Regions from separate parts of the Homo sapiens genome. Here region 1 is linked to region 2. The links come from fine-mapping of genetic effects on gene expression. A gene starts in region 2. The other region holds a variant in brackets. All regions are shown on one strand. Distances are between the middles of the regions.

What was found. PIP is the estimated chance that this variant, and not a neighbour inherited with it, causes the effect.
Region 1: its variant is the best candidate, but not a certain one, in a credible set for the expression of SLC40A1 in lung (TOPMed, PIP 0.69).

What each region holds. Positions count from the first base shown.
Region 1 is chr2:189,519,615-189,524,999 of GRCh38, forward strand. No RefSeq gene overlaps it. Among named protein-coding and RNA genes, the nearest start is that of SLC40A1, 58 kb to the right of the region's middle. The variant C/T (reference allele first, on the strand shown) is at 3,147.
Region 2 is chr2:189,578,426-189,583,810 of GRCh38, forward strand. SLC40A1 (solute carrier family 40 member 1) reads right to left here and starts at 2,361. Exons shown (of 8, transcript NM_014585.6): 1 at 1,993-2,361; 2 at 1,388-1,455. The coding sequence starts at 2,035. RefSeq lists silencers at 2,315-2,374, 2,445-2,614.

The sequences.
Region 1 (5,385 bases), 59 kb before region 2:
AAAAGAAAATTTATATCTAAGAGTTTGAAGTCACAGCTCCTCTGTTTTTGAAAACAAGATGAAAATTTGTCTTTTAATCATTTTTTAACTTAGGGAAAGGAAATGTTCAAAGAACAAAATTTTAAACTGTGGCGCCCTTCTGAGGAGGAAAGTCACATACAGCAGAGGGAGCAGAGGGTCCGCGATGCGGGCCGAGCAAGAAGCAGGGGAGCTTCAGGACTGTGAGTGAGTTCTTTAAGAGCATCAGGCTGCAGTGGCTTGACAGGGCTGTCCCAGAGATGTTTCCTAGTAATGAAGGAAAGCCTCATGAAGGGCTGTCTCCTTCCTGATTATTTTACTTTTAACCCAACACAACAAATAGAAGGCAGATTTCCCAAACACACCAAGGAAGTTGAATGGCCTGAAGAAAATCTGACATCTGCATATCAGCATGGACTAGCTCTCAAATACTTTGCATGAATAATAAATTAAAATGGCAGCTCAAGCAGGACAGGCAGATGAGAAAAACAAAAAAACGAAAACCCAAAAGCCTGGCCAGGAGATAAGTACCTGATAAAATCATTCTTTTCAAGGAATGCCAGGAACCCAGATTTGAAGGTTGACCATGTCAACCTCTTCAGTCTCTGGCTCCTCTCAAGAAAAAAATGTGATAAATAGATAAGACTAAATTATAATTAGCATTTCAGTAGTTGTTTATACAGTACTTCAAGGTCCTTAAAAGCAGTTCTTTCTAAGCCTCTTAAATGTTTAGGCATGCTATTAATCTGTGTTATAAAGATGACAACTTATTTAGCAAATGTACACAGCAGTCTAGCCAATTATGACGAACTTCAAAATAGCAGAGTCCAAACCAATAGACTTTATTGATGTGTGTTTGCCCATGCTACTAATTTAGCATTTGAAGTTAAATTTAAAAGCAAAGCGCTTAATGTGAAGCTGCATCAGTTATTAACTAATGACTTATACATTCTTACACATTAAGTACATATATACAATGCATTTTAAGATGAAAAGAAAACTTTAAATAGGCCGGGCGCAGTGGCTCAGGCCTAATCCCAACACTTTGGGAGGCCGAGGTGGGCAGATCACCTGAGGTCAGGAGTTCAAGACCAGCCTGGCCAACATGGTGAAACCCCATCTCTACTAAAAATACAAAAATTAGCTGGGTGTGGTAGCAGACCCCTGTAATCCCAGCTACTCGGGAGGCCAAGGCAGGAGAACGCTTGAACCCAGGAGGCGGAGGTTGCAGTGAGCCGAGATCACACCATTGCACTCCAGCCTGGGGGACAAGAGCGAGATTGTCTCAAAAAAAAAAAAAAAAAGAAAAAAAAGAAAAAGAAAAGAAAAGAAAACTTTAAATAGACTATAAAGTGTGATGAACTCCCTAGTCAACTGGCAAGTGCTCTCTTTTCCAAAAGATTCAAGCAGAGGAGGATCAGTCATCAGATAGGAGGTGTCCAAGGCTCCCACTGCTTGGGAGGCAGAACTCTCTAGATCTGGGAATCGCAGCTCTAGATAGGGGCCAACTCAGGAATTACTGTGAAGCCCTTGAAATCTTCAGATACAAAATATACCTCAAGACGTTCTAATAAAAAGTTTTGGGTAGAGTTCTAGAGACAGCAGATTTAAAACATGGGTGAGGCTCTGACAAAACTTGATGATAGTGCAGATAGTACACTTTGCTGATGATTTCAAAATCTAAGCTAAAGCACTGCTCCCAAACTAAGAATTAATGTGCTGCTATAAGCCTAAACTTATAAAAATCATTGTTAAACTCTGCTTTCTAAGTAAGACCTTTAGGGGTACTTTGACTCTTTTAGTTGTTAAAGCCAGTACTAAATTGGATATTATCTCCATCCAGCGTAAATGTGTTCACCATTTTATAGATGGGAAGCATGAAGCCAGAGAGATAAGGCATTTTCCCTACATCATACAGCAAATAAATGACAGTTTGTAATATAATTCAAATATCTCCATTCAATAACTAGAAACCACAACAGTCATATAGCTAACCATTCTTGAGCATGGTTTTTAATTCTTTACATGATTTTTTGTATTTATTTTCCAATCTATAATGTAGGTACTACTGTCATTCTCATTTCACATCTGGGGAAATGAAGCACAGAGTGGCTATACAGCCTCTTCGAGGTCACACGCAGCTAGTAAAAAGAGGCAGGAGTGAAATTCAGCCAGCCTATCTCCCCAGTCCATGGTCTTAACCACTATACTCTCACCCTTGATTTTTCTACCAACTTCCCCATTGTAACTGTTTGTGGGTGCTGTATCTATTAGATAACCATAAATGACCCAGGTGTAGAGCAAGTCCTCCAACAGTGCAAAGACAAAATGAAACCACTAGGGTGTCTTTTTGTCTAATTATCAATAACCAGGATCAGCCCAAAGGAGGCAAATGTACCCCCAATCCCCCAACTAGCCACAATTCTTGTCATCACTTGTGGTCTTTTGGTTCAGGGCCTCAGTGCTCTGAGAATTCCTAACTCTACCAGCATTCACATTAATTTTACTGAGGCATTCTCTCCATGTACACAGTTGTTTGTTTTATAGAAATGTAAACACATTTCACCACTCACTGTTGCTTAAATACCTTCTATGATATTCTTGCCAAATGGCCTGGAAATTTGAAACCTCCCATGGTAGCTCATTCCATGTTTGGACAACTTTAAATGTCAGAAATTTCTTCCTCTCATTGAAACTAAATCTATCTGTAGCTGCCTTTTATTTTCCCTAGTTAATAACTTTTAGGTTTAATCTGATTTTTCTTATTTTGAGCATTTAATAAAAATGACAGACCTTATCTCCAGGAAAAAAAAATTTAGACATGAATAAAAACTTGTACAATCTTTGCGGAATTGCAGTGTTCTGAAGGCCTATGAATGGTCTATGGACTTTGGACTTAGAAACTCTCTTTTAATAACAGCCCTTCAAATACCATAAGGCAAGTGTGTTCCCCCCCTTTACTGATGTACTGTGTTCAAGTACTTATACCTCTCTTCTCTCTCCACGGAATTGCATCTGCTTAGATTTTGCTGCCCATTTCAGCCCACGGAAACCTTTCTAAATCAAGTTCTATGATCTAATCTATTCACTTCCCCTCCTTGGAGTTGCTTTTAGGCTTCATCAGCATG[C/T]TCTAGTCTTTTCAACACAGCCAATGGAAAGATATGGGCTGGGAAACAGCTGGAAACAAAGCACTGTAGTTGGCAACTAGCAACCTGCCTCTCAAAGAATGTCATTCAGTGTAAGTAGGATGTGTCCAGGACATTTTTTGCAAAGATCATTTACTGCGACCAAAGTCCATGAATACACAAGGAAGTGTGCATATTTAACAAGCAGAATATAATCATACGCAGTTAACTTTATTCCCAATAGAGACCTGCTTTTGTTCTGTTTTCTTCTAGGTTGGCTAGGTCAGGAATTGGACTAACCAACTCAGGGAGTATGAAAACATGTGAGCCACATGATTAAGAGCTTAAGTACTGATTGCAAAATTTCCTTTTATAGTCTAGCATGTGACCTTATGAAACTCACATATTTTCCCAGGTCTGAAGACCCCAAAACTTTTAGCCTTCCTACGTACATAGAATGGCTACCCAGTGGCCATTCTTTTGGCTTGAAAGATTCTCATGGTCACTAATTTAAATGCCATGTTTGGTATTAAGGGATACTTTAGTAGTTTAATTTACTTGTTTTAAAATAAACTTTTTCATGGCTTTGAGGGCAACTTTTACTTCTAGTGTTCTAGAGTTTTATGGACAAGTTCACATTCACCCTGTCCATGTACTCCATAGATTTTATAAATGAAGTCATATCCCTTTTAAAGTTTATCACTTCAAAACTAAGAGTTGTAATGAAGCCAGCATTGAGGAGTAGAAAGAAAATTGAAAATGATCTGTCAGGGGACCCTATTCTGTTATTAACCACCCAAGAAATTGTGGACAATTAAATTATCCTTTCTGGGCCCCTTATTTCTCATATGTAAAAAAAGAGGTCGTGACTTCTTCTCTAAGGCCTCCTCCATTTTTCAAAATTCTGTCATTCTCATTTTCTTAAATTAGAAGGGTGCACTAAACCATCAGAAGTAAGACAAACAGGCCAGGTGTAGTGGCTCACGCCTGTAATCCTAGCACTTTGGGAGGCCGACGTGGGTGGATCACTTGAGGTCAGGAGTTGGAGACCAGCCTGGCCAACATGGAGAAACCCCGTCTCTACTAAAAATACAAAAATTAACCGAGCATGGTGGTGGGCGCCTGTAACCCCACCTACTCAGGAGAATCACTTGAACCCTGGAGGCCGAGGTTGCAGTGAGCCGAGATCGTGCCCCTGCACTCCATCCTGGGAGACAGAGTGAGACTCCATCTCAAAAAAAAAAAACAAAAAACAAAACTAAGACAAAGAGTAGCATCTGGATTCCTTTCTGTGCATTAAACTTCAAAACAAAGTATTATTTTAATATACAAGGGCTATCATACAATATAATTTCATTTTATTCATGGTACATAGTAGATCACAGGATACAATCCCTCTAACCCAGTGGTTCCTAAACTTGGTTGCAGGTTGGAAACACCTGGGGAATTTTTTAAATGGCTTTTGCCTAGATCTTACTATATTAGCCCATGTTCACACTACCATAAAGATACTACCTCAGATTGGGTAATTTATAAACAAAAGAGGTTTAATTCACTCACAGATCTGCATGGCTGGGGAGGCCTCAGGAAACTCACAATCATGGCAGAAGATGAAAGGGAAGCAGACACCTTCTAGGCATCAGGAGAAAGAACGCCAAGCAAGTAGGGGAAGCCTCAACCTTTAAACCCTCAGATCTAATGAGAACTTGCACAAGAACAGCATGAGGGAAACCGCCCCCATGATCCAATCACCTCCCACCAGGTTCCTCCCTTGACACAGGGAGATTACAATTCGAGATGAGATTTGGATGGGGACAGAGAGCCAAAATCTTACCCCCAAATCGTCTGATTTAATTGGTAAAGGGTAATAAGGCCTGATAGAGCAGCAAGAGTATAAAAACTTCTGCAGGTGCAAACAGTTGTTCAAATCCAGAGTCCTCAATTCTGGCTGCATACAAGAATCACTCGGTGATTTTTCACACCTGCCAATGCCTAGCCCCACCTCCAGATTCTGATTGAATTGGCCTGTGGGACCTGGGCCTTGATAGGCTTTAAAACTCTCCAGGTGGTTCTGATGTGCAGTCAGCGTTGAGAACCATTCTTCTATTCCCTACCACACAAGTTCTATCTAGTTGATCATCCTGACCTCCTACTCCATCCCACAGTGGCCACTCATTGAATGAAAGAACCTTGGACCTTATTAAAAGGTACAACTCTACCTTCATTATATCAACCTCGTGCC
Region 2 (5,385 bases):
GAACAACCACGGTGCCACTGGTTTTCTGGCAAATCTGACCTCCTAACCTATTAACCAAAGGTCACATAAACCATAATCAGAACTTGGAAGAGAGGCATCTTCTTCCTCTAAGAGCAAGGCCAGACCACAGGCTGAGAATTTCAGATACTATTCCCATCACATGTTATTAATACTTAATATTTACTGAATTAAACTGGGGGAACAAACTATTGCTTTTTATTTATTAAGGGTTGTTTCACTAGGTTTCTACTTAGCATCATCAGCTGTTGGAATTAAAACAAACTCACACCAATTCCACTTTGTTTACATGTATTTGCAGAGTCACCCCTGTGTAAGCCTCTGGTAAGATAGGAGCTTGCTTTTCTAAAATGTCATCTATAAACTGCTATTTCTTAGAGAACCAATAATGTAGCTTAACAATTTCTCAAAGGTATTGGGTATAGATTTCCTCTTCCAGTGGTTTCCATCCATGTCTTAAGGATGATCCAATATAAGTTTCCAATTTAAAAGGAAAATAACATTCAAAAAATTTACTCTCAAAATTCTTTCCATTCTTTTTAAATACATATGAGCCATGGACAGAATATAGCCAGATTTATTGCTTTTAAACAATAATTGTTTAATGTTAAAGATTCTAATCATCACTGAACATATATCTAGCACCCTTCTAGTTTATTATTTTTCGGAGAGAGTTTTAGGAGCCCAGATCTACAGAAACACTAGGTCTTTTCCAGGACAACCTAGAAAGTCAGAGGGAAAACTGTAAATCCATTGCTGATATTCATTGGATGATTAATTTTAAGATAGCCTCCACTGCCCCAAACTTTATCTAACTATAGATAACATTTTTAAAGACCAGAATTTTTGTCACTCAGATATTTGTTCTGGGGGTCATTTATGTTTCAATTAATCTTAGAATGTTATTATTAGCTTAAGTCAGTCACTCTACCATTCTATTGTATTCTCATGGTGCTGCACGCTGGAACTAAATTTTAACAAAAAAAGAAAACAAAATATTTTAAAATGTGAAGAAGAGAAGGTATATGAGACATCCATCCATCTTTTGTAGCAGATATGTCTATTTACCAAAGCTACTAATGCAACATAAAATTTAAAAACAAGGCAAATATTCCTTTCCTTGATAATCTTGTCTGGATAGTTGTCTATCTACATAAACTACGATGATCTGATAATTAAGTTGCATTAACTAACACTCATGGGGAAAGATCTTCGATGTAAATAACGTTTTCATTAAAGCATGTGTACTTGGATGATTTATTTCTTTAACTGCTTGACAAAACTGGAAGTTGGCTTAATACAACTGGCTAGAACGAAAGGAAATAAAAAATTGCGCAACTGTGTTGTAAGACTATGCATTCTCACTTACCCAAGTAGAGAGAGAATGACCAAGGTAGAGAAGGAATTTTGCAGAGGTCAGGTAGTCGGCCAAGGATCCTGCAAAGACACAGGCGGGGTGACAAAAAGCGATGGTAGTCACTTAATGAGCTGAGGGCAGAATGCTTATCCATTTGATCTCATTAGAACATGATTATTAAAAACTACTTTGCAGGACAAACCACGTACATTTTATCAAGTTACCTATGAACCGATGTATTTCGTTCACTTAATACCATTCACTAAATTCAGTTATTGACCTAGTCAATAACTGCCCAACTTCACATTTCACATACAGTGAAGAAACTCTTGTTTCAGCATTCTTTTTTGGGTTGGTTGGTTTGTTTGTTTTGTTTCTTTTTTACACAAGGCAATCCAAACTGCCCAATCTACTCCATCCGTGCCTGTGTGCAAACCCCTTTTCCCACACCCTGAATTTCCTTTCTTCCTTAACGTCCACCAAATATGAGTCAAAGGATCTTTTTACAAAGCTATGGTTCACAGCAGAGCCACATTCCTCCAGAACTCGTGTAGAGTTGCTTGTCTCCAAAGCCCCACCTGGGTTTCCACCATATGCTTTCGGTCAACGACACTCACCACAGCATCCTCTCTGGCGGTTGTGATCTCCCGCCCTGGTCATGACACTAGGCGACCCCGCTGGCTCTTCTGCGGCTGCTATCGCTGCTGCTGCTCTCGCTGAGGTGCTTGTTAACAGGAGTGCAAGGAACTGGAGATAGCACCTCTAAAAACACAACAGCCTTGGGCAAAAAGACTACAACGACGACTTTGGCAAAGAACAAAAGAAAAGGGGCCCAGGGATTTTCTTTTTTCCTTCTTTCCAAACTTAGCTAACACTGTAGCTGAAGTTGGAAAGGCAAAGCCTTATGGAAGCGGTTTGGGAGGCTCAGCAGGTCGTCCGAGCCTAGCGGACGCCCTGAGCCAGCTCTCTCCGCCGCCGCCGCCGCCGCCGTGGGCCGGGCCCAGCTCTTATACCGAGTCGGGGGCGGAGCTCCCTGCGACCTCCGACTGGGGCCGCCCCGTCCCCTTCAGGGCCGCCCGGGCGTCCCCGCGGCGCGAGACGAGCTCCCGTCAACCTTGCGCGCCGGGCCGTCCCCGCGCCCTTGCCCGGAGGAGTCGCCCACCCCGGGCGCAAGCGTCCAACCGGCCGCAGACACCCTGCGCGGCTTGCGGGGACCTTCGCCTCGACGCGTTCCACTCCCCGGGTTTTCCTGCTCTCCGGGAAGCCGCGAGGGCAACCTCGGGGGGCGGCCGTGGGGCTGGGAAAAGGAGGAAGGCGCGTGGAGCCGGCGGGGCGGCGTAGGGAGATTCTGCGCGAAACTAAGCGTCAGGTGCTGGAAGAAAGCGCTGCGCACCGGCTACCCCGCAGTTCAGGGAAAGGGCGGCCGCCGGACGGTCGCAGTGCAAAGCTCCAGCGCGAGCTTGGTGGGTGGGGATTCCTTTTTTAACGAAAATAATTTTTAATACAGGTATCTAAATAAATATAATTCATGCCACAGAGGCCGCTTTCCTGGCCGTCCCATTCCGGCCCGCCTGCAGCAGAGAATGCCTTTCCTTCCCCGGACTGCATAGCAGGGCTTCCCTCAAAGAACCAGAATCAAAGGGCAGGAAGGGGGCGCAAAGATCAGAGTCCATCCCTCTTGAGAGGAGCAAACGGAGGCTTGCAAAGGTGAAGTCCCGCAGCGAGTTACAGACCTACCCGTATCCCCAAACTGGGGCCTCCAAATCCGTCCTGGAGACAGAATGAGGATGCTGCAGCCCCAGCAAACCCTTCACCATCATTCCTTCTCCCTCTGTACCCTCTCACCCCGCCCCCACGCGCGCGTCCCTTCCCCACCTAACCTCCAAATGCCCCAGTGACAGGCTTACCAGGAATACCGGTTATCCCAGTTGTGTCCCTGGATCTGTCCCTGTCCAGATAAAGCCATTCGGTGGCCTCCTGGAGGGTGAGGTGAATGACTAAAGAACACCAGACTCTAGCCTTGGTTGACTTCGTTTTAATCCTGCTGTGCCAAACCAACCCCTGGGGCATACCAGCCCCTTTTGCCAGTAGGTTACCTTACCCTTCTTAATCTCACGAAAACCCTGGTAGTGGATCCTACATATTGAAACTCCAACCAGATGCCACACCTTGAGCACAGGCCAGACTGACACCCAGTAGTGAAGGGAGCCACGCATGAGTATGTGCCCTGTATCTGCACTCTCAATCAGGAGCCCCAAAGGTCTACGGGGTGGGTGCAGCTGGATTCGGTTGGGATGTGGTCTGGTGAGTAGAGATAGGGGTTACAGTTTAACTACTGCTTTTCACTGCTTTTTGCCTTTTCAAGCCCTCTTTTTTCCTTTCTTTCACACGACATTCAAGTTCTTTCTCCCAATTTAGAGAGGTTTTGGTTTGCTAACCGTGGAGAATAGGGTCATTTATACATGCATCCTTGAGAATAAACCAAAGTATACTCAGATGAGTGAACTAAAGTGAAGGAGTGAACTGGTAAATAAACCCCTCCACTTTATGGCGATCCCTTATTAGAGATGAATTTTTTGACAGGTCCTCAACAAGGCACAAAGGATAGTGATAGTTTGCACATTTGTCAGAGTGTGTCTCAGCAACAAGGACCTCCAAGTGCTTTACATTAATTATTACATATTATAAGAAGGGGTGTCATGCTGTCCCCAACTTCCAGGTGGCTTTTTAAAAGTTCGGTTGGTTAAAAAAAAAATTACTTCCCGTAGACACTGTTTAAGAAGTATTTGTGGAAAGAGTGGCTAAGTCAGCATATACCTCAAAATGTGATATGGAGTCTCTGTTCTCCATTGTCACCAAGGAGTCCCCAGAAGCCAAAACCGAGAGAATGTTATAAAGAACAAATGGGATACTGCAGTGAAGCAAGTAGGAAAGATACTTTGGAAAGAAAACAAGCAAGGTTCATGACATTAAAACCAGTGAGTGAGCTGTGGAAGGGGAATCTTAAATCCTAATTAATGAGAATAGTTGAGATATGTTAGTTGGGGCTTATGAAATGGAAAGAAATTGAAAATGAAAATAGAATAAAAATCCTCAAACTATTCAGAAAGTGCAAAATGACAGAATTCTTTTGGCTTTGACATGCTAGGTTACAAAGCACCGCTTTAATCACAAGACCCTTCGGGCTCTTCCTCCTTCTGAGAAAACATTTGACCAGTTGAAAATTAAGATTTCTTCCAAAAGTCATATATATGTTTTTGAGAACACAGAACATACAACATTCCCATCAATTTAATCTAACTAAGAAAGTCATGCAAGTTTTAAGTCAGTTTACAAAAAATAGTAGATACCCTAAAGACCATGTGCCAATTCATTTTCAACATGTTTTAAAGTTTGTAACTAGGTTAACCACCTTTTTAAAAATCCCAGCCAGAATAAAATGTATATGGCTATTTAAAATTCATTTAAAGTGTTTATAGTTGGGAAATAAAAACGGTTTTATCATTTCATTTTTAAGTTGTCTTTTCACTTACCGGCCAGGCATCCTCAGTTTCCTCTGCCATATCAGATGTGCTCACCAGGACAAAGGCAGAATAAAGAATGGTCACTATTCCACTGCTCTGAAGAAAAAAAGTAATAGGGTTATCACCAACTATTACAGGAAGGGCTCCAATCCAGGACTGTGCTTCTGTTGGATGTGAACCTTTTTACATTAACTTAGGAGCTATAAAGCCACGTTTCCATTCAAAAATCTTTCTCAGTGTTACAGGCAAATTTCAAGAACGGTTTTATATTTCTATAATATGAATGAATGGCTCTTGAGAAGTTTAAGTTCAACATCTACTTTAAATTACAGACATCCTATTGAAAGATAAATATCCTCCCAGGTCTTCATTTTGTTTGAACATTTCAAATAGATTTGACCTTGCGAAGTTTCTTATGAATGCTGGCTCTCATTGGGGGTGCTCTCTTGCTTCCTCTCTCTCATACACACACACACACACACACAC